Regions from separate parts of the Homo sapiens genome. Here all the other regions are linked to region 3. Evidence: fine-mapped expression QTL. A gene starts in region 3. Each other region holds a variant in brackets. All regions are shown on one strand. Distances are between the middles of the regions. Region 1 has its middle 53 kb from the start of EQTN. Region 2 overlaps TEK (TEK receptor tyrosine kinase). Region 3 holds the start of TEK (TEK receptor tyrosine kinase). Region 4 overlaps TEK (TEK receptor tyrosine kinase).

Region 1 (5,152 bases), 130 kb after region 3:
AGTGGGGACCAATATTCAACATTCTTAAAGAAAAGAATTTTCAACCCAGAATTTCATATCCAGCCAAACTAAGCTTCATAAGTAAAGGAAAAATAAAATCCTTTACAGACAAGCAAATGCTGAGAGATTTTATCACCACTAGGCCTGCCCTAAAACAGCTCCTGAAGGAAGCACTAAACATGGAAAGGAACAACCAGTACCAGCCACTGCAAAAACATGCCAAATCGTAAAGACCATCAAGGCTAGGAAGAAACTGCATCAACTAATGAGCAAAATAACCAGCTAACATCATAATGACAGGATCAAATTCACACATAACAATATTAACCTTAAATGTAAATGGGCTAAATGCTCCAAATAAAAGACACAGACTGGCAAATTGGATAAAGAGTCAAGACCCATCAGGGTGCTTTATTCAGGAAACCCATCTCACGTGCAGAGACACACATAGGCTCAAAATAAAGGGATGGAGGAAGATCTACCAAGCAAATGGAAAACAAAACAAGGCAGGGGTTGCAATCCTAGTCTCTGACAAAACAGACTTTAAACCAACAAAGATCAAAAGAGACAAAGAAGGCCATTACATAATGGTAAAGGGATCAATTCAACAAGAAGAGCTAACTATCCTAAATCTATATGCACCCAATACAGGAGCACCCAGTTTCATAAAGCAAATCCTTAGAGACCTACAAAGAGACTTAGACACCCACACAATAATAATGGGAGACTTTAACACCCCACTGTCAACACTAGACAGATCAACGAGACAGAAAGTTAACAAGGGTGTCCAGGAATTGAACTCAGCTCTGCACCAAGCAGACCTAATAGACATCTACAGGACTCTCCACCCCAAACCAACAGAATATACATTCTTTTCAGCACCACACCACACCTATTCCAAAATTGACCACATACTTGGAAGTAAAGCACTCCTCAGCAAATGTAAAAGAACAGAGATTATAACAAACTGTCTCTCAGACCACAGTGCAATCAAACTAGAACTCAGGATTAAGAAACTCACTCAAAACAGCTCAACTACATGGAAACTGAACAACCTGCTCCTGAATGACTACTGGGTACATAACGAAATGAAGGCAGAAATAAAGATGTTCTTTGAAACCAATGAGAACAAAGACACAACATACCAGAATCTCTGGGACACATTCAAAGCAGTGTGTAGAGGGAAATTTATAGCACTAAATGCCCACAAGAGAAAGCAGGAAAGATCTAAAATTGACACCCTAACACCACAATTAAAAGAACTAGAGAAGCAAGAGCAAACACATTCAAAAGCTAGCAGAAGGCAAGACATAACTAAAATCAGAGCAGAACTGAAGGAAATAGAGACACAAAAAAGCCTTCAAAAAAATCAATGAATCCAGGAGCTGGTTTTTTGAAAAGATCAACAAAATTGATAGACCGCTAGCAAGACTAATAAGGAAGAAAACAGAGAAGAATCAAATAGATGCAATAAAAAATGATAAAGGGGATATCACCACCAATCCCACAGAAATACAAACTACCATCAGAGACTACTATAAACACCTCTATGCAAATAAACTAGAAAATCTAGAAGAAATGGATAAATTCCTCGACACATACACCCTCCCAAGATTAAACCAGGAAGAAGTTGAATCTCTGAATAGACCAGTAACAGGCTCTGAAATTGAGGCAATAATTAATAGCTTACCAACCAAAAAAAGTCCAGGACCAGATGGATTCACAGCCGAATTCTACCAGAGGTACAAGGAGGAGCTGGTATCATTCCTTCTGAAACTATTCCAATCAACAGAAAAAGAGGGAATCCTCCCTGACTCATTTTATGAGGCCAGCATCATCCTGATACCAAAGCCTGGCAGAGACACAACAAAAAAAGAGAATTTTAGATCAATATCCCTGATGAACATTGATGCAAAAATCCTCAATATAATACTGGCAAACCGAATCCAGCAGCACATCAAAAAGCTTATCCAACATGATCAAGTGGGCTTCATCCCTGGGATGCAAGGCTGGTTCAACATAAGCAAATCAATAAACGTAATCCAGCATATAAACAGAACCAACGACAAAAACCATATGATTATCTCAATAGATGCAGAAAAGGCCTTTAACAAAATTCAACAACCCTTCATGCTGAAAACTCTCAATAAATTAGGTATTGAAGGGATGTATCTCAAAATAATAAGAGCTGTCTATGACAACCCCACAGCCTATATCTTACTGAATGGGCAAAAACTGGAAGCATTCCCTTTGAATACTGGCACAAGACAAGGATGCCCTCTCTCACCACTCCTATTCAACATAGTGTTGGAAGTTCTGGCCAGGGCAATCAGGCAGGAGAAAGAAATAAAGGGTATTCAGTTAGGAGAAGAGGAAGTCAAATTGTCCCTGTTTGCAGATGACATGATTGTATATCTAGAAAACCCCATTGTCTCAGCCCAAAATCTCCCTAAACTGATAGGCAACTTCAGCAAAGTCTCAGTATACAAAATCAATGTGCAGAAATCACAAGCATTCTTATACACCAATAACACACAAACAGAGAGCCAAATCATGAGTGAACTCCCATTCACAATTCCTTCAAAGACAATAAAATACCTAGGAATCCAACTCAAAAGGGATGTGAAGGACCTCTTCAAGGAGAACTACAAACCACTGCTCAATGAAATAAAAGAGGATACAAATACATGGAAGAA[CA/C]ATTCCATGCTCATGGGTAGGAAGAATCAACAATGTGAAAATGGCCATAGTGCCCAAGGTAATTTATAGATTCAATGCCATCCCCATCAAGCTACCAATGACTTTCTTCACAGAATTGGAAAAAACTACTTTAAAGTTCATATGGAACCAAAAAAGAGCCCTCATTGCCAAGTCAATCCTAAGCCAAAAGAACAAAGCTGGAGGCATCACACTACCTGACTTCAAACTATACTACAAGGCTACAGTAACCAAAACAGCATGGTACTGTTACCAAAACAGAGATATAGACCAACGGAACAGAACAGAGCCCTCAGAAATAACGCCGCATATCTACAACCATCTGATCTTTGACAAACCTGACAAAAACAAGCAATGGGGAAACAATTCCCTATTTAATAAATGGTACTGGGAAAACTGGCTAGCCATATGTAGAAAGCTGAAACTGGATCCCTTCCTTACACCTTATACAAAAATTAATTCAAGATGGATTAAAGACTTAAATGTCAGACCTAAACCCATAAAAACCCTAGAAGGAAACCTAGGCAATACCATGCAGGACATAGGCATGGGCAAGGACTTCATGTCTAAAACACCAAAAGCAATGGCAACAAAAGCCAAAATTGACAAATGGGATCTAATTAAACTAAAGAGCTTCTGCACAGGAAAAGAAACTACCATTGGAGCGAACAGGCAACCTACAGAATGGGAGAAAATTTTTGCAATCTACTCATCTGACAAAGGGCTAATATCCAGAATCTACAATGAACTCAAACAAATTTACAAGAAAAAAAACAAACAACCCCATCCAAAAGTGGCCAAAGGATATGAACAGACACTTCTCAAAAGAAGACGTTATGCAGCCAAAAGACACATGAAAAAATGCTCATCATCACTGGCCATCAGAGAAATGCAAATCAAAACCACAATGAGATACCATCTCACACCAGTTAGAATGGCGATCATTAAAAAGTCAGGAAACAACAGGTGCTGGAGAGGATGTGGAGAAAAAGGAACACTTTTACACTGTTGGTGGGACTGTAAACTAGTTCAACCATTGTGGAAGTCAGTGTGGTGATTCCTCAGGGATCTAGAACTAGAAATACCATTTGACTCAGCCATCCCATTACTGGGTATATACCCAAAGAATTATAAATCATGCTGCTATAAAGACACATGCACATGTAAGTTTATTGAGGCACTATTCACAATAGCAAAGACTTGGAACCAACCCAAATGTCCAACAATGATAGACTGGATTAAGAAAATGTGGCACATATACACCATGGAATACTATGCAGCCATAAAACATGATGAGTTCATGTCCTTTGTAGGGACATGGATGAAGCTGGAAACCATCATTCTCAGCAAACTATAACAAGGACAAAAAACCAAACACCGCCTGTTCTCACTCATAGGTGGGAATTGAACAATGAGAACACATGGACACAGGAAGGAGAACATCACACACCGGGGCCTGTTGTGGGGTGGGGGCAGGGGGAGGGATAGCATTAGGAGATATATCTAATGTTAAATGACGAGTTAATGGGTGCACCACACCAACATGGCACATGTATACATACGTAACTAACCTGCACGTTGTGCACATGTACCCTAAAACTTAAAGTGTAATAAAAAAATGTAGTAACTCAACCTCAACAGCGCTTTTCCTCTTCTTCTCTTTGAAAGTGTCCAGAAACCCCATACCATCATCGACCAAACTCTACTGCCAGTAGTAGGGGCCAGAGAAGTCACCGAAACAGCAATTCAGAAATTAAAGATGTTCTTGGGCAAGGTGACTACTTCTTTCCTTTCACGTCTTCTTTTACCTTCCAAATGACCAGATCCATGCAGGCTTTTGCATTTTCACTAGCATTGTGACCTCCAAATAGTACAGAATATTTTTTAAAGTGTTAGACATAAGACAACCATAATCTCTGATGTTACTTACATATTTCTCAAAATTAAGCCTTCAATTTATGTTTCTAACAAAGTTAACACTGCTCACCTATCGAAATATCATTAATACCTAATACAACCTCCAATGATTGCTTTATAAATGTTTTACATGAATGTACTAGATTAACAAACATTGTTCTTTTTCTAGGTAGTCTTTCCTCTGTCACATTATCACTACCTTGCAATGATTGGCTAGCACATCGGTACCCTCAGCTGTGTATCTCCTTCCCAGGGAGGTATGAGAAGAAAGTGGAGGGATCACCAAAGCAAGACATCTGCCTAGAAGCCAGAAATGTCGAATGGTTAAAAAAAGAAAAAAAAAAGTAATCTCTCTAAATAAAAGAACAACTTTAGGCACAAGTTTATATGGTTTTAAAAAGTAGATAAAATTTACCCAAAACATAAAGCTGTATAGTTCTGGTGAGAATAATAAATGATATCTGAGATTGGGTGAGAAAGTCGTATGGTCAATGCTTCTAAAATGGTGTAATAGTTTTCA
Region 2 (5,152 bases), 83 kb after region 3:
TGACTTCTAGAACTATAATAAATTTGAGTTGTTTGGCTGAAAGAGAGAGATATATATATATAGAGAGAGAATGAATTATGATCTAGAAGAAAGACCAATATCAAATAATCAAATAATCATACTACAAAGAGTAATAACCCCTAAAAATCACCATGAAGGAAAAGTAGAGGTTCTGTGAAAGTATACAATACCTTAATTCAGTTTCTATGATAGCCACCTGTGAAATATTCACATCAGAGCTAAGAATTAACTGGGAGAATAATGGGAGGTGGAGCATTCCTTGCAGAAGAGAGACATCCACAATCAATCTAAAGAAAGGAGGTTCGTGCTTTGTTAGTTGGATGAAGTGAAAGGTCAGTGGGACTGGAGGGTACTAGGTGAGGGGAAGAGGAGGCTGGAGAGTGGGCAGGGGCTTAATCACTCAAGGCCTGGCTGGTCACGATATGAATTTTTGGTTTTATCCTACATGTGATGAGAATCCATTGAAGGGTCTTGAGCAAAGGGGCACATTTATTTTAAGGAAGCACTTTGAGGATAATGGGTTGGGGAAGCAAAAGCAAAGCAGAGAGCTTAGAGAGCAGGTGATCTCACTGAGTCTGAGCAGAAAACTTTAAGAGGACTTTGTTGGACATGTAAAACATATCTTCTACCTCTACCTAAGAACAATCACAAAACCTCAAAGCCGAAGGACTAATCTGCCTTCTGAAATTGTATTTAGTTCTTCCAAAGCCCCTGAATGCCCCAAACGTGATTGACACTGGACATAACTTTGCTGTCATCAACATCAGCTCTGAGCCTTACTTTGGGGATGGACCAATCAAATCCAAGAAGCTTCTATACAAACCCGTTAATCACTATGAGGCTTGGCAACATATTCAAGGTAAGCTTTGGACAGGATAGATGCCAGCTGGGGATGTGGCACCAGGAGAATTATTTTTCTCCAAATCTAGAAATTCCCTTCTCCCTGCCTCAATCCTCTACCTCAAGGTGGTGGCTGTTGCAGAGGATTCTGTTTCAGAGTATTCAAGAGAGAGTGCAGGGGGCCCCTGAGCTCTGGGGCTAACTTTCTGAAGTCACTGTGCGCTCTAGAACACAGAACCAGCTCACACCATGAGTTACTATCTATATCAATATTTCTTTTTGGATCTCCAGTCCTGTTTTTAGTTATTCTATCTTGGCTGGTCATGGGGAAAGGCACTTGTTTATGCCATGAATATGGTAGCAGGAAAGTCCAGAGCCTGCTGGAAGGGCAGAGAGGCTTAATCTGCCTAAATCCTGGGGGTGATTGTTGCTGCTGTATTGAGTTGTTTATTCCTTTTCTCATTTCATGTCTTGCCCTGTCCTGCAGACTCTTAACACAGAGAGATTTTTGAAGGAATTTGAACCTGCAAAGTTTGGGCTGTGGCAGACTGGAATGGGCTCGGGGGAGGACAAGGACAGGCAAAGGGAGCTACAGACCCCTCCCCTAACTTCCTGAAAGAAAAAAATAATTGAACAAAATGTGACAAAATGCCAAAAGTTCATGAAAACAGTTGAATTTATTTTGAAACACAAATTACAATTATATTTGTTGTATGATAATGTAAAATCACAATTTTAAAAAGCAAAGAGCATTATCAGTGACCATGCTGCTTCAATTGGACTATTCTGTAAAAAGACCTGCCACTAACATGCTTGTAGGCAGCATGTCCTCCTCCGCCCATACCTTTGTCTTACTATGCCTATGATTTCCTTAAAATGACCCTCTATTCACTATATGGAGATAATTAAGAAAACTATGGAAAAAAAAAAAGAGAAGAGGAGGAGGGTTTTGGGCTGAATAACACTAGCTGACCTGGGTAGACCGAATAAAATGGTATTATTACTGAGTCCTTCACATACTATTGTAGATTCTATCAAAATTCAGAATTCCAGGGATGTCAGGCTGATTTGCTGAATTGCTGTTTCCAACATCAATGGCTAGGTCTTTTGCTGTCATATGGTGGTAATAATCCATCACCTTTGTCTACAAGTGGACATCCACAAAGTGGTCTTCTAAGAACTGTTAAACACATCCCAGTTTTTTTTCTTACCAAGTAGGAATTTATCATATGATAAGGCAGAAATTTATCTTTGCAGTATCCATGGAGAAACAGAGGCTGACTAAAGCAAATAGGTAAGGAGAAAAGAGACAGATACCATTTGTTTATGGGTGCTATTTTCAAGGACTTCAGAATGCTTCATTGTAATAGTATGACCATTGCAAATCAGTTTTCTGGTCATTTTGAGCAAACCTCCTAAGCATCTTTTTCTCTCGATAGCTTGATTGCAATCAGTGTACATACTTGAAAACAGTAGCAATTAAATTATTCTAATTGAGTATTCCCCCAATCTGGTATTCCATATAGATTTGTGAGGTTTTATTCTACAAATGAAAAGACAAAAGCACCAGAGCAGAAATGTGTAAGTGGCACAGAAATACACACTTTAATGTGTACATTGTAACCTGGAAACATTTCAAAAGCCTAATTTTCCTCATATTGGGAAGGATGAGGCCTTGAAGATGGAATTGCCTCTCTGTTTCACTAAGACGTAGTTTTGAAAACCTAAAATTAGTTCACATCGCAATAACAACAACCCCGGCTTAAGGAATGTAAGAGAATGCCAACTTAAGTTTCCTGGACGTTTTCTCTTCTCAGTGACAAATGAGATTGTTACACTCAACTATTTGGAACCTCGGACAGAATATGAACTCTGTGTGCAACTGGTCCGTCGTGGAGAGGGTGGGGAAGGGCATCCTGGACCTGTGAGACGCTTCACAACAGCTTCTATCGGTCAGTGGAAGCCAACAGGCATTTATTCATGAGCTGGGTGGGAGGGGGAGGAAGG[G/A]GAAAGAGGAAGGAAGACCAGGAAGGGTGGTGGTGGGTGAGTGGGTGGGTGGGGATGGAGGTGGCAGGAGTTCGCTTTTGAATGGGTGGGAAAGTGACAGGAAGGCTAGCAACTTCAAGCCAAACTGTTCCTTTATTTGGGTTGGACTCCTGGTCTGTCTCCCTGGGGGAGGAGGTCTGCAGCACTCTGTAGGGACAGAGAAGGAAGCAGATGAGCCTTCAGGAAGGCAGGGCCTCCCCTAGGAGCTGGGATTTACACAGCAGCAACTGTGCTGAGCTTCAGCTCCTGCATTTTATCACTGGCTTCCTGTTTCCATCTTAAGGGCCCAGACCAGGCTCTTGCCACAGGCATATTTTAGAAGTCCCAGTTTATTTATTTTCAAAAATAATTTCCAATTTTTCAAAGTAATTCATGGTCAGAGTCATGACATCAAATAGAATAAGAAGCTTTTATCTAAAGAACAGCATTCTCCTGCTCCACCCTCCACCTCCCAGTCCTGCTTCCTATAGGTAGCCACTTTCATCTCCTTAAGCTATTTCTTATATTTACCTCCCTTTTCTAAATCAGTGGTTCTCAAACCTAAGTGTCCATCAGAATCACTCAGAGAGTTTGTTAAAAGATGTTTCTGGGCCTCGTCCCCAGAGTTTCGGATTCAATGGTTTTGAGGTGAGGATGGGGCCGGGGTTCAAAAATTTGCATTTCTAGTAGGTTCCCAAGTGATGCTGCTGGTCCTGGGTCCACACGTTCTAGATAACATGTGTAAAATTACTTCTGGACTTCTCAGTGGTGTTTGGTATTGACTGGCCTTCTATTGCGTTAATTAACTCTGTGAAGCCTCCTTGATGCTAACCTGACCTCCAGCTTTCTGTTACCCAGGTACCCTCCATTGAAATACTGGAGTGATCTTTTGTAAGGTTCCATTCCTGGTTCTTTGAATTGTTCACTGTGTATAACCATTCTGTTACTCTCTCTTGGTCAGTACTTTATACTTTCAACTTCATATATATTTGATTTATATCACCTAGGAAAGTAAGAATTATCATCTTCCCTATTTTACAGATTGAAAAGTAGAGACTCAGAGTACTTAATAACAGTAAGATGCATCACCATACTAAATCTTCGGGCTTCATATCTTTGTCTTTTAGAGCCAGGATCTTGCTCTGTCACTCAAGCTGGAGAGTGCAGTGGTTTGATCAACACTCATTACAGCCTCTATCTCCTGGGCTCAAGTCATCCTCCCACCTCAGCTTCCTGAGTAGCTGGGACTACAGGCACACCACCACATCTGGCTACTTCAAAAAATTTTTTTTGTAGAGACGGGGTCTTGCTTTGTTGCCCAGGCTGGTCTTAAACTCCTGCCTCAAGCAGTCCCCCAGCCTTGGCCTCTCAAAGTGTTAGGATTACAGGGATGAGTCACCACTCCCAGTCCAGGCTCCATATCCTTTTGTTTCTCCAATTATTATTTCTACCTAGAATCCCAAAGGCACCAGCTTATTATCCCAGTTCACATATTTGCCTGTGTTTTACTCCATTTACTAAAAGTAGAAGGATATGTTATGATTGAGTGAAAAAACCAGGAAGAACATCCACTTTTCTTCTGCAGAGATTGTGCACCCTTAACAGAAACATCCTTCCTTCACACCACCCACCTAGTTTTTATGTTACTAGCAGCATCCTTAAAGAACCAAATGAGACTCAAAAGCTACTCTGAGACTTATAGAAGCATTACACACAAGTAAGAAATGGCTGCTTGGGGACCCACCTGGTTGTGAATATAAAAAATAAACCCAGAAACTATATAGAGAGGAAAAAGGGACCTCTACAACCATGACCCAAGGGATCCCTGATATGTCATCATGTTACTGCTAAAAGGCAAATGGTAGTTAATTCTCTCTCAAGTCACTGTTGGTGAGTCAAGAGGGGAAGAGCATAAACTGACTCAGATGGAAAGTATTTATGGAACAGAACATAAAACACTTCACAGCCCCACACTGTACTGTCTTCAGCCCTCAGAATGTGTTGCAGCCAGGAGGTCTCTCAGAATATTTCAAAGTAGTTCTCAGGGGTAGGCGGGAAGGGGATTATTGAAGGTTCTTCTTTTCCCATCATTTGAATTTTGCTGCTGTTTGCTTTTCATTTCGTCTGGCAGTTGCACTGTTTATGTGTGTTGATTGAGATGGTGAAGGCCAGGGAGTCCGGGAGGGGAAGGAAGAGAACACTTTCTGAACATAGTGCAGAAAGGGGCAGACAGGGAGGCGTATGGGGTAATCATGTTCCCAAAGGG
Region 3 (5,152 bases):
ATTTTGGCTTGGTGTATATCATAAAAATGGATTTTCTGGTGGGGCGCAGTGGCTTACACCTGTAATCCCAGCACTTTGGGAGGCCAAGGGGGGGGGGGGGTGGATCATGAGGTTAGGAGTTCAAGACCATCCTGGCCAATATGGTGAAACCCCATCTCTACTAAAAAGTATAAAAATTAGCCGGGTGTGGTGGTGCACGCCTGTAATTCCAGCTACTCAGGAGGCTGAGGCAGGAGAATCGCTTGAACCCAGGAGGCGGACGTTGCAGTGAGCCGAGATAGTGCCACTGCACTCCAGCCTGGGCGACAGAGTGAGACTCTATTTCAAAAAAAAAAAAAACTGGATTTTCTGGGCCAAAGGGTATGCATACAAGGCTTTTGCTTTGTGTTTGTGATGTTGACCTCTTGACATGTGATACCAGTGTATAGTAGTATTATGTAAGTTATTTTCCACCTCTTTCAGAAAAACCGTTTTGTTATCTATTGATACCTTTGTTAATTAGTCTCAAAGACTTTTAATGTTGTCTATAGTGTTTTTCATGTATTGAGTGCAAAAAGCAGGAAATAGAAAATGAAGAATCAGCCAAGAGCCTTGTTTGTTTGTTTAGTTTGGTTTGGTTTTCTTTATGCTTTTACTGTAGGTATGTCTGGAAAAATCAAATTAAATGGAATGAGCTTGACTCATGAGGAGGCCCCTTTCATTTTCCTGAAGTGAATTAATACAGCACCCACCGATCCTGACATTAGTTATTTCAGAAGCACACTAAGAACTGACCGCACTTCTCAGTGTCACCAAACTATTCTTATCTGTCAAAGTTTCATTTCAAATACTTCTGTAAGGTCTAGGTGTACCCTGCTGGTGTTTGTGATGTCCTACATTACTCTTGATCTACTTTTCAACTATGAAACAAGGGAAAAATTGGAGGTCCAGAGCTCAGGATTCAGATATTATTACCTCTGCTACTCACAGCAGAGCAAGTAACTTAGCCTGTGTGGAACTTCATTTTTCTTTCTTTTTTTTCTTTTTTTTTTTTTTTTTTTTAGACAGAGTCTTGCTCTGTCACCCAGGCTGGAGTGCAGTGGCACGATCTCGGCTCACTGCAACCTCTGCCTCCCAGGTTCAAACAATTCTCCTGCCTCAGCCTCCAGAGTAGCTGGGGTTACAGGTGCACGCCAGCAAGCACAGCTAAATTTTGTATTTTTAGTAGAGATGGGGTTTTGCCATGTTGGCCAGGCTGGTCTCAAACTCCTGACCTCAGGTGATCCACTCCCAAAGTGCTGGGATTATAGGCGTGAGCCACTGTGCCAGGCCCACTGTTTTTGTTTTTTTTTTTCGTGATGACAAATTTAAAGTCATCTCATAGGAATAGAAAATAGCTTTTTAGTAGAAGCTCTTGGAATTTAAATTGAGACTGAATGGAAAGATGAAAGAAAATAAACTTATTAACATTTAATGAGAACCTTCAAAGAACTAGGCATAGTACCAAATGGTTTTATATTTTTAAACCTCATTTATTCCTCTCAAAACACCTGGGAAGGAGATATTTTTGCCATTTCACAGCTGTTGAAACTGAGGCTCAAAAAGACTAAGTAACTTTTCTCAGCTACACATGTGGCTGAGCCAGTATTTGAACCCAGTTCTGTTTGCAGACAGAACCTGGGCTTTTTCACACCTGCAAACTGGAAACATTAATTGGTTCTTAAGATCATCATCGATGTGATAAAACCTGGGACAGAAATTAGTCAAGACTAGCTGCATCTGCCTTTTCCTCTGGTGGGTAGGAAAAGGAGGAGTATAATGATTTCCTCAGGCATGAAGGTCGATGATGAGCAAAGTGTATACTCTCTAATCTAATGTCATAATTCATATTGTGGAGTAATTATCTGGATAAGTGTAGGGTCTCTGACCTCATTCTAGATATTGTACATTCCATGGCTATTTTCATTTTGGTCCATGAACTCTCTTTGCTCTCATGAGCACCATTTTTATCCCAATCTAATCCTGTATGTTTGTGTTTTTACACAGATTAGTTTTTAAATGTTATATATAATTTGCTTCTGAAACACCATTGCTCAATGACTACCAAATCTTTCTCATTACCAAAATCCTTCTATGCCAACTTCTTCAAGAAATTTGATCACCTTTAGATGAATTGTTAATGAAAATTAAAGCTATAGCCGGCAACATGGGTATCTTTGGGCTAATGGCCAACCAACAGGCCATCTGTGTGAAAGAAAACAGGCTAACAATTTTGGACTCTGGTCTCTTGGGGCTACATTGAGCATTGACCTCACCGGTGCTCACTGAAATTAATTGCTTTTCAGGTTGTATTTTCTCATCACGGAAACCTTCTTCTCCCAATTCAAACCATGTGGGTTAAAATGAGAAAACAAAAGCCAAAACGGCTTCCCACACCCAAAAGCTCCTTCTGTCAGAGATCCCAGTAGCCCCGGGAGAGCTGTTAGAAGTCTGAGAAGGATTGGTCATCATCGCATACCATACATAGGTGGAGGGCTTGTTATTCTCAGTTTCCCGCCTATGAGAGGATACCCCTATTGTTTCTGAAAATGCTGACCGGGACCCACACTTCCAACAAAAATTCCTCTGCCCCTACAGCAGCAGCAAAAGCAGCAGCAGAAGCAACAGCAACAGATAAGTGTTTTGATGAATTGCGAGATGGATAGGGCTTGAGTGCCCCCAGCCCTGCTGATACCAAATGCCTTTAAGATACAGCCTTTCCCATCCTAATCTACAAAGGAAACAGGAAAAAGGAACTTAAAACTCCCTGTGCTCAGACAGAAATGAGACTGTTACAGCCTGCTTCTGTGCTGTTCCTTCTTGCCTCTAACTTGTAAACAAGACGTAGTAGGACGATGCTAATGGAAAGTCACAAACCGCTGGGTTTTTGAAAGGATCCTTGGGACCTCATGCACATTTGTGGAAACTGGATGGAGAGATTTGGGGAAGCATGGACTCTTTAGCCAGCTTAGTTCTCTGTGGAGTCAGCTTGCTCCTTTCTGGTAAGGTTTGGCTTTATTTTTTTTAATTTAGTATTTTAAAAAACAGAGTTAGTGATTTCTGGGTGCTCTCCCCAAATCTCATCAGTGCTGATGAACAAGGGGTGGCTGTAGCAAAGGCACCATTTCTCTGTGAGTCTCCAGTCAATATGTGTGGAAGGATTGAAATGCAAAGGCTCTGTGGCATGAACTGATTTTGCTAGTTTGTCTTCTGGGTGATTGGCCCCTGTGTTAGAAACTCTTTGAGGACCGATTAAATCATCTTATTTGAAGAGATCCCCTTACTATCATGCATTATTTTCCTGCTCCTCATTCTGGAGTGTTTTTCTTATTGATTTTTTTTTTAAAGAACAAACCGGTTTTACCTGCTTTAAAGAAAATCTTCAGTAAAAAATGAAATTCATGCTGAGAAATACAGGGGCCCAATTAAGGCAGTGTATAGATTGTCACTGTTAAAAGGGAACAAAGATGCTTTTCTGTAAAAAGATTTTATATCTACATCCTATTTTAAGCAAAGCAATGAAATTGTAGGCTTTTTTTTTTTTCTTGTAGTTAGGGTCAGGGAGATTGGGGCTATTAGAATTTTTGTTTTATTTTAAAAAATGTTTGCCATGTAGTAATTCATAAAGGGTTTACTGGCCCAATGAAACAAAAATTTAGGCAGTTACCAAAATCTTTAACACAGGAGAGTATATGAAGCCTGTTGTAGAGTGAAGGAGTGGTTGGCCAGTGTGTTGGGTTCAGCGTGTTTATTGCTTAGATACTCCAGATAGTGGTGTGCCTCTGTAGCTCACTCAGCCTATGTGACATAGGTAGAAGGCAGTATCCAAACCTGAACTACATATCACAAATACATTTATCATTGCCATCAGTCTCTCCCCTTCGGTTTGAAAACATTCTAATTTTAATAACGAAAATCGAATTGATATTGGAGATGAATTTGGGAAAATTCACTAAACTTCATGGATATAGGGCATATTAATATAATTTGATTCGAGTATACATAAGTATCTGCTATATTTTCTAGGTGTTTGAACTATTTTATTAAATATTCAAAAAACAAATCCAATGAAATAACTGAGTTGAATACAGTTTGTTTTATAGCTCTCAACAACCAATATTTTGAGAATTTAATAATATTCTTTAAGAATGTGTAACACAAGTTGCTAAAAATTAAAAGATTTTAGGTGGCTTCAGTATTTATGTGGAAATTGTTTAAATAATGTTGACTTCTCCAATAATATGTACTTCAAATAATTATCATGATTCCATTTTTGATTTTTTTTTTTCTGAGTGCCATTATTTACCAGTGACATGAAATCTGGAACTTACTCTATACCAGGGATTATAGTGATGTGAAGCCCAGGTGTCTATAGTTTCTCTGAGGTACTTTGTAGGTTAATACACACACAACTGTTTTCATTCACTTTTTTTACTCCTAAAGCAACTGTGTTATAGCACTTTGCAATACAGGCTTAGAAGAATTGTCATAAAATCAAACAAAAAGGTATGTAGCCAAAATACTTGTTCCATGTCTAGACCTCAGATCCCTGGAAAAAACAGCACTGCCTTTAAAAGGCAGAGGACCAAGGAGAGGAAGTAGGTTCATGTTCTTGTTAGGAAGGGTGACACTAGCAAGGTTAGTTTCTGAGGTAGGTCTGTTGTCTTGATCGTAGCTTGCATTCCTAGTCTAAGCCTCCATGAGCATGACTGCTCAAGGCTTGATAATTGCAACAAGAATCCAGCTAGATAATGTCCACAGCCATAGGAGCCCGTTCCTCTAGTCAAACTCCTGGTAGACTAAAGCAGTGGAGCAAGGGGCTTATGGCTTAAAGGTTTATCTCTCTAGTCCAGTGGGTTGTTTCTTGTTTCTTTTTTCTGAACCCACAGACTGAAAAAAAAAAAAAGCCACTTTTTTTTAGTGAAGGTGGCTCTGGATGACAGAGTTGTTTACCCATAAGAGGGCTGGAGGGGATGTGTAGCTCTCAGAAGCTCCTTACAAATACTCCTAGATTCTGTTGCTTTCCTTTTCTGAATTGAGAATCATTGCTAACTTCAGCTTTCAAACAGGTTCTATTATATTAGCTTTTCCCTACTCTTCCTCATAAAACCAGGCTGTTCTCTTTAAAAAGTTG
Region 4 (5,152 bases), 120 kb after region 3:
CTCAAAATATTAAGAGCTGTTTATGACAAACCCACAGCCAGTATCACACTGAATGGACAAAAGCTGGAAGCATTCCCTTTGAAAACCGGCATAAGACAAGGATGCCCTCTCTCGCCCCTCCTGTTCAACGTAGGATTGAAAGTTCTGGCCAGGGCAGTCAGGCAAGAGAAAGAAAGAAAGGGCATTCAAATAGGAAGAGAGGAAGTCAAACTGTCTCTGTCTGCAGATGACATGATTGTATTTCTAGAAAACCCCATTGTCTCAGCCCAAAATCTCTTTAAGCTGATAAGCAACTTCAGCAAAGTCTCAGGATACAAAATCAGTGTGCAAAAATCACAAGCATTCCTATACACCAATAGCAGACAAACAGAGAGCCAAACCATGAGTGAACTCTCATTCACAACTGCTACAAAGAGAATAAAATATCTAGGAATCCAACTTACAAGGGATGTGAAGGACCTCTTCAAGGAGAACTACAAACCACTGCTCAAGGAAATAAGAGAGGACACAAACAAATGGAAAAACATTCCATGCTCATGGACAGGAAGAATCAATATTGTGAAAATGGCCACACTGCCCAGTGTTATCCCCATCAAGCTACCATTGACTTTCTTCACAGAATTAGATAAAACTGCTTTAAATTTCATATGGAACCAAAAAAGAGCCTGCATAGCCAAGACAATCCTAAGCAAAAAGAACAAAACTGGAGGCATCAAGCTACCTGACTTCAAACTATACTACAAGGCTACAATAACCAAAACAGGATGGTACTGGTACTAAAACAGATATATAGACCAAAGGAACAAGACAGAGGCCTCAGGAATAACACCACACATCTACAACCATCTCATCTTTGACAAACCTGACAAAAACAAGCAATGGGGAAAGGATTCCCTATTTAATAAATGGCGTTGGGAAAACTGGCTAGCCATATGCAGAAAACTGAAATTGGACCCCTTCCTTACACCTTATAAAAAATTAACTCGAGATGGATTAAAGACAAACGTAAAATCTAAAACCATAAAAACCCTAGAAGAAAACCTGGGCAATACCATTCAGGACATAGGCATGGGCAAAGACTTCATGACTAAAACACCAAAAGCGATGGCAACAAAAGCCAAAATTGACAAATGGGATCTAATTAAACTAAAGACCTTCTGCACAGCAAAAGAAACCACCATCAGAGTGAACAGGCAACCTACAGAATGGGAGAAAATTTTTGCAATCTATCCTTCTGACAAAGGGCTAATATCCAGAATCTACAAAGCACTTCAACAAATTTACAAGAAAAAAACAACCCCATCAAAAAGTGGGCAAAGGATATGGACAGACACTTCTCAAAAGAAGATATTTATGCAGACAACAAACATGAAAAAAGCTCATCATCACTGGTCATTAGAGAAATGCATATCAAAACCACAATGAGATGCCATTTCACACCAGTTAGAATAGCAATCATTAAAAAGTCAGGAAATGACAGATGCTGGAGAGGATGTGGAGAAATAGGAATGCTTTTACACTGTTGGTGGGAGTGTAAATTAGCTCAACCATTGTGGAAGTCAGTGTGGCGATTCCTCAGGGATCTAGAATTAGAAATACCATTTGACCCAGCCATCCCATTACTGGGAATATACCCACAGGATTATAAATCATTCTACTATAAAGACACATGCACACGTATGTTTATTGCAGCACTGTTCACAATAGCAAAGACTTGGAACCAACCCAAATGCCCATCAATGATAAACTGGATAAAGAAAACGTGGCACATATACACCATGGAATACTATGCAGCCATAAGAAAGGATGAGTTCTTGTCCTTTGGACGGACATGGATGAAGCTGGAAACCAACATTCTCAGGAAACTAGCACAAGAACAGAAGACCAAACATTGCATGTTCTCACTCATAAGTTGGAGTTTAAGGATGAGAACACATGGACACAGGGAGGGGAATATCACACGCCTATCGGGGGGTGGGGGCTAGGGGAGGGATAGCATTAGGAGAAATACCTAATGTAGATGACAGGTTGATGGGTGCAGCAAACCACCATGGCACTTGTATACATATGTAACAAACCTGCATGTTCTCCA[C/T]ATGTATCCCAGAACTGAAAGTATAATAATAAAAAAATAAAGATACATTTTCTTGCCTAGAACCTTGCTTCTGCTAAGATTACTTTCAAAAGTAAGATTTATTCCAAGGGTAAGAATAATGAACTGTAGTGATACCAGCATTCCCAGAACTATCCGTGGTAGAAGCTAACTGGCATGTTTGAAGACTGCAAGGCTCTAGGTTGAGCAGATAATTTATTGTCTAAATGGAGCTACTTCTAAGAGTGAAGGAGGGTGTTAATCTCACTGGAGCAAGAAGCATACATACCATCCTGGAAAAACCTGGACATAGTTGACCATCACTAGACAGTCCCTAAAATTCCACCTTTTGAGATTCACTTCATAAGGGGTGAGAAGATTTTTTAGTCTTTAAGAAACTTATGTTAAAGTGTAAGCTGTTCTGGGATCTGTGACACCCTAAGCCAATGGTTGATAGCCTTCCATGCACATAAGGTTCCCCAGAGTCATTTGTTCAGCATGTGGGCTCTTGGTCCCCACTGTCAGTCATTGATTCTGTAAGTTTAGGGCAGGTTCCAGAATTCTGCATTTTAATAACAGAGTAGTTCTGAGCACAACTGAGTAAGCACTGTCTTAGGTCAGTGTTTCCCAAACTATGTTTTCACGTGTTGTGCAAGATATAAATACATGATGCAAGGGGAAAGGAGTTCTGCGGTCAATTACTTTGGAAACTTTGTGTTAAACCTGTTGTCTTAGTCATTTCCGGCTGCTGTAACAACATACCATAAACATGGTGGCTTATAAACAACAGAGATGTATTTCTCACAGTTCTGAAGGCTGGGAAATCCAAGATCAAAGCGCTAGCAGATTTGGTGGCCATGAGCCATTTCCTAGCTCATAGATGGCCATCTTTCTGCTGTGTCCTCACGTGGCACTAGGGGCAAAAGAGCTCTTTGAGGCCTTTTGTGTAAGAGCACGAATCCCATTCATGAGGGTTCTACCCTCATGACCTGATCACCTCCCAAAGGACCTACCTTCAAACACCATCACATGGTTTCAACACATGATTTTTGGGTGGCATGAACATTCAGTCCATAGCACCTGGTTAAACAGGCATTTTTTTGTTTTTAATGACAGTGCTTCTAAAAGTCCTGCCTCTTAAAGGGACTTTATGTGGGTGGCATTTTACAAGTTTGAGCATGGGCCCTTTAAGAGACACTAACATTTTGAAATATGCAGCATTCCAAGGCAAATGCTGCTCTAGACACATACCCAGTTCTTTCTAGATGATTGCAATAGCTGAGACCAAGGTCCTGCAGAAACAGTACCGAGGGTAGGAACTAAATCTATGAGGAGTTGAAATGAGACTGGCTTAGGGAGGTGGGAGTCCTCATAGAAACTTCCTAGGGGCTGTACTTTGGTTAAGCTTCATAACCATGCATTGGGTGGCTTCATTCTCTCCTCTCTTTTCCTGCCGTGCCTAGGACTGAAGCACAGTTATAGAATTAACCCTTTAATTCTTTGCTTTCGAAGGTATGATCTAATGAGACAATGCTGGCGGGAGAAGCCTTATGAGAGGCCATCATTTGCCCAGATATTGGTGTCCTTAAACAGAATGTTAGAGGAGCGAAAGGTAAGTATTAAAGTCAGGCAGGAGATCTTTAATTGGAATACCTGATGTGCCCAGGGTGGTTCATAAAAAACATTGAAATAATTGAAGAAGTTCTTCTTGGCATGGCCCTAAGTATTATAGAAACAAAGGATGTCCCTCCACCCCCGCGACTTTGAAGAAGTTACAATTTTGGGGGGAAATAAGATTTCTATACAAGATACAGTCACGTACACACTAGAATAACATACAGAATTAGCCTATTAGAGTTGGAAGGAATTTTCGTCATATAGCCTGACCCTTTAATTTTATAGATGAAGAAACAGACTCAGAAGTGGGTGACTTGACCAAGGACACACAGCAAGTAGACAACAGAGCCTGACCTGCAGGTTACTATAATGAGGGTCAGGAACTCCATAAAAATTTCTAGAAGTAAGTTGGCTGTACCGATCTGGGAGTCAAAATAAAAGTAAACACAGTTTAAAGAAATAGTCATCAAAACCCAAGTGGTAATTCAACTAGAGATGCAGGTGAGATCACACAGATGTGAAAATGAGATTCAGACAGAGGAAGGAACCCAGAAGAAGGAACCCTAGGGAAGCTGAACACATTAGGAGGTACCAATAAGACACTGTGAGAAAGGCAAGCTCAGAAACTGAGGATACAGTATGAAATCTTACTTGCAGAACGCAAGGGGATGCATTTTAGGAAGAAAGTCATCAAATACAACAGAGGGACTGAGGACAGAAAAGTATCCCCCAAGTGCTTAGTATATGAGTTGCAACAAACTAAGAAAACCAAGGTATTGCTGTAACTGCCGCTGGCAGAGGTGGAATCAAAGCAGCCTATGTCTCTGAACCATTTTCATTCTTCCAGACCTACGTGAATACCACGCTTTATGAGAAGTTTACTTATGCAGGAATTGACTGTTCTGCTGAAGAAGCGGCCTAGGACAGAACATCTGTATACCCTCTGTTTCCCTTTCACTGGCATGGGAGACCCTTGACACCTGCTGAGAAAACATGCCTCTGCCAAAGGATGTGATATATAAGTGTACATATGTGCTGTACACCTGGGACCTTCACCACTGTAGATCCCATGCATGGATCTATGTAGTATGCTCTGACTCTAATAGGACTGTATATACTGTTTTAAGAATGGGCTGAAATCAGAATGCCTGTTTGTGGTTTCATATGCAATAATATATTTTTTTAAAAATGTGGACTTCATAGGAAGGCGTGAGTACAATTAGTATAATGCATAACTCATTGTTGTCCTAGATATTTTGATATTTACCTTTATGTTGAATGCTATTAAATGTTTTCCTGTGTCAAAGTAAAATATTGTTAATAAACCTAACAATGACCCTGATAGTACAGGTTAAGTGAGAGAACTATATGAATTCTAACAAGTCATAGGTTAATATTTAAGACACTGAAAAATCTAAGTGATATAAATCAGATTCTTCTCTCTCA

Evidence for each region.
Region 1: its variant is fine-mapped to the expression of TEK in whole blood (INTERVAL, PIP 0.99).
Region 2: its variant is fine-mapped to the expression of TEK in whole blood (TOPMed, PIP 0.97).
Region 4: its variant is fine-mapped to the expression of TEK in whole blood (TOPMed, PIP 0.90).

What each region holds. Positions count from the first base shown.
Region 1 is chr9:27,241,187-27,246,338 of GRCh38, forward strand. It overlaps the pseudogene REXO6P. Among named protein-coding and RNA genes, the nearest start is that of EQTN, 53 kb to the right of the region's middle. The variant CA/C (reference allele first, on the strand shown) is at 2,697.
Region 2 is chr9:27,189,811-27,194,962 of GRCh38, forward strand. It overlaps TEK (TEK receptor tyrosine kinase), which reads left to right. Exons shown (of 23, transcript NM_000459.5): 10 at 719-880; 11 at 2,679-2,813. Among named protein-coding and RNA genes, the nearest start is that of TEK, 83 kb to the left of the region's middle. The variant G/A (reference allele first, on the strand shown) is at 2,869.
Region 3 is chr9:27,106,623-27,111,774 of GRCh38, forward strand. TEK (TEK receptor tyrosine kinase) reads left to right here and starts at 2,603. Exons shown (of 23, transcript NM_000459.5): 1 at 2,603-3,020. The coding sequence starts at 2,969.
Region 4 is chr9:27,224,605-27,229,756 of GRCh38, forward strand. It overlaps TEK (TEK receptor tyrosine kinase), which reads left to right. Exons shown (of 23, transcript NM_000459.5): 22 at 3,602-3,701; 23 at 4,554-5,152. The coding sequence ends at 4,628. Among named protein-coding and RNA genes, the nearest start is that of EQTN, 70 kb to the right of the region's middle. The variant C/T (reference allele first, on the strand shown) is at 2,093.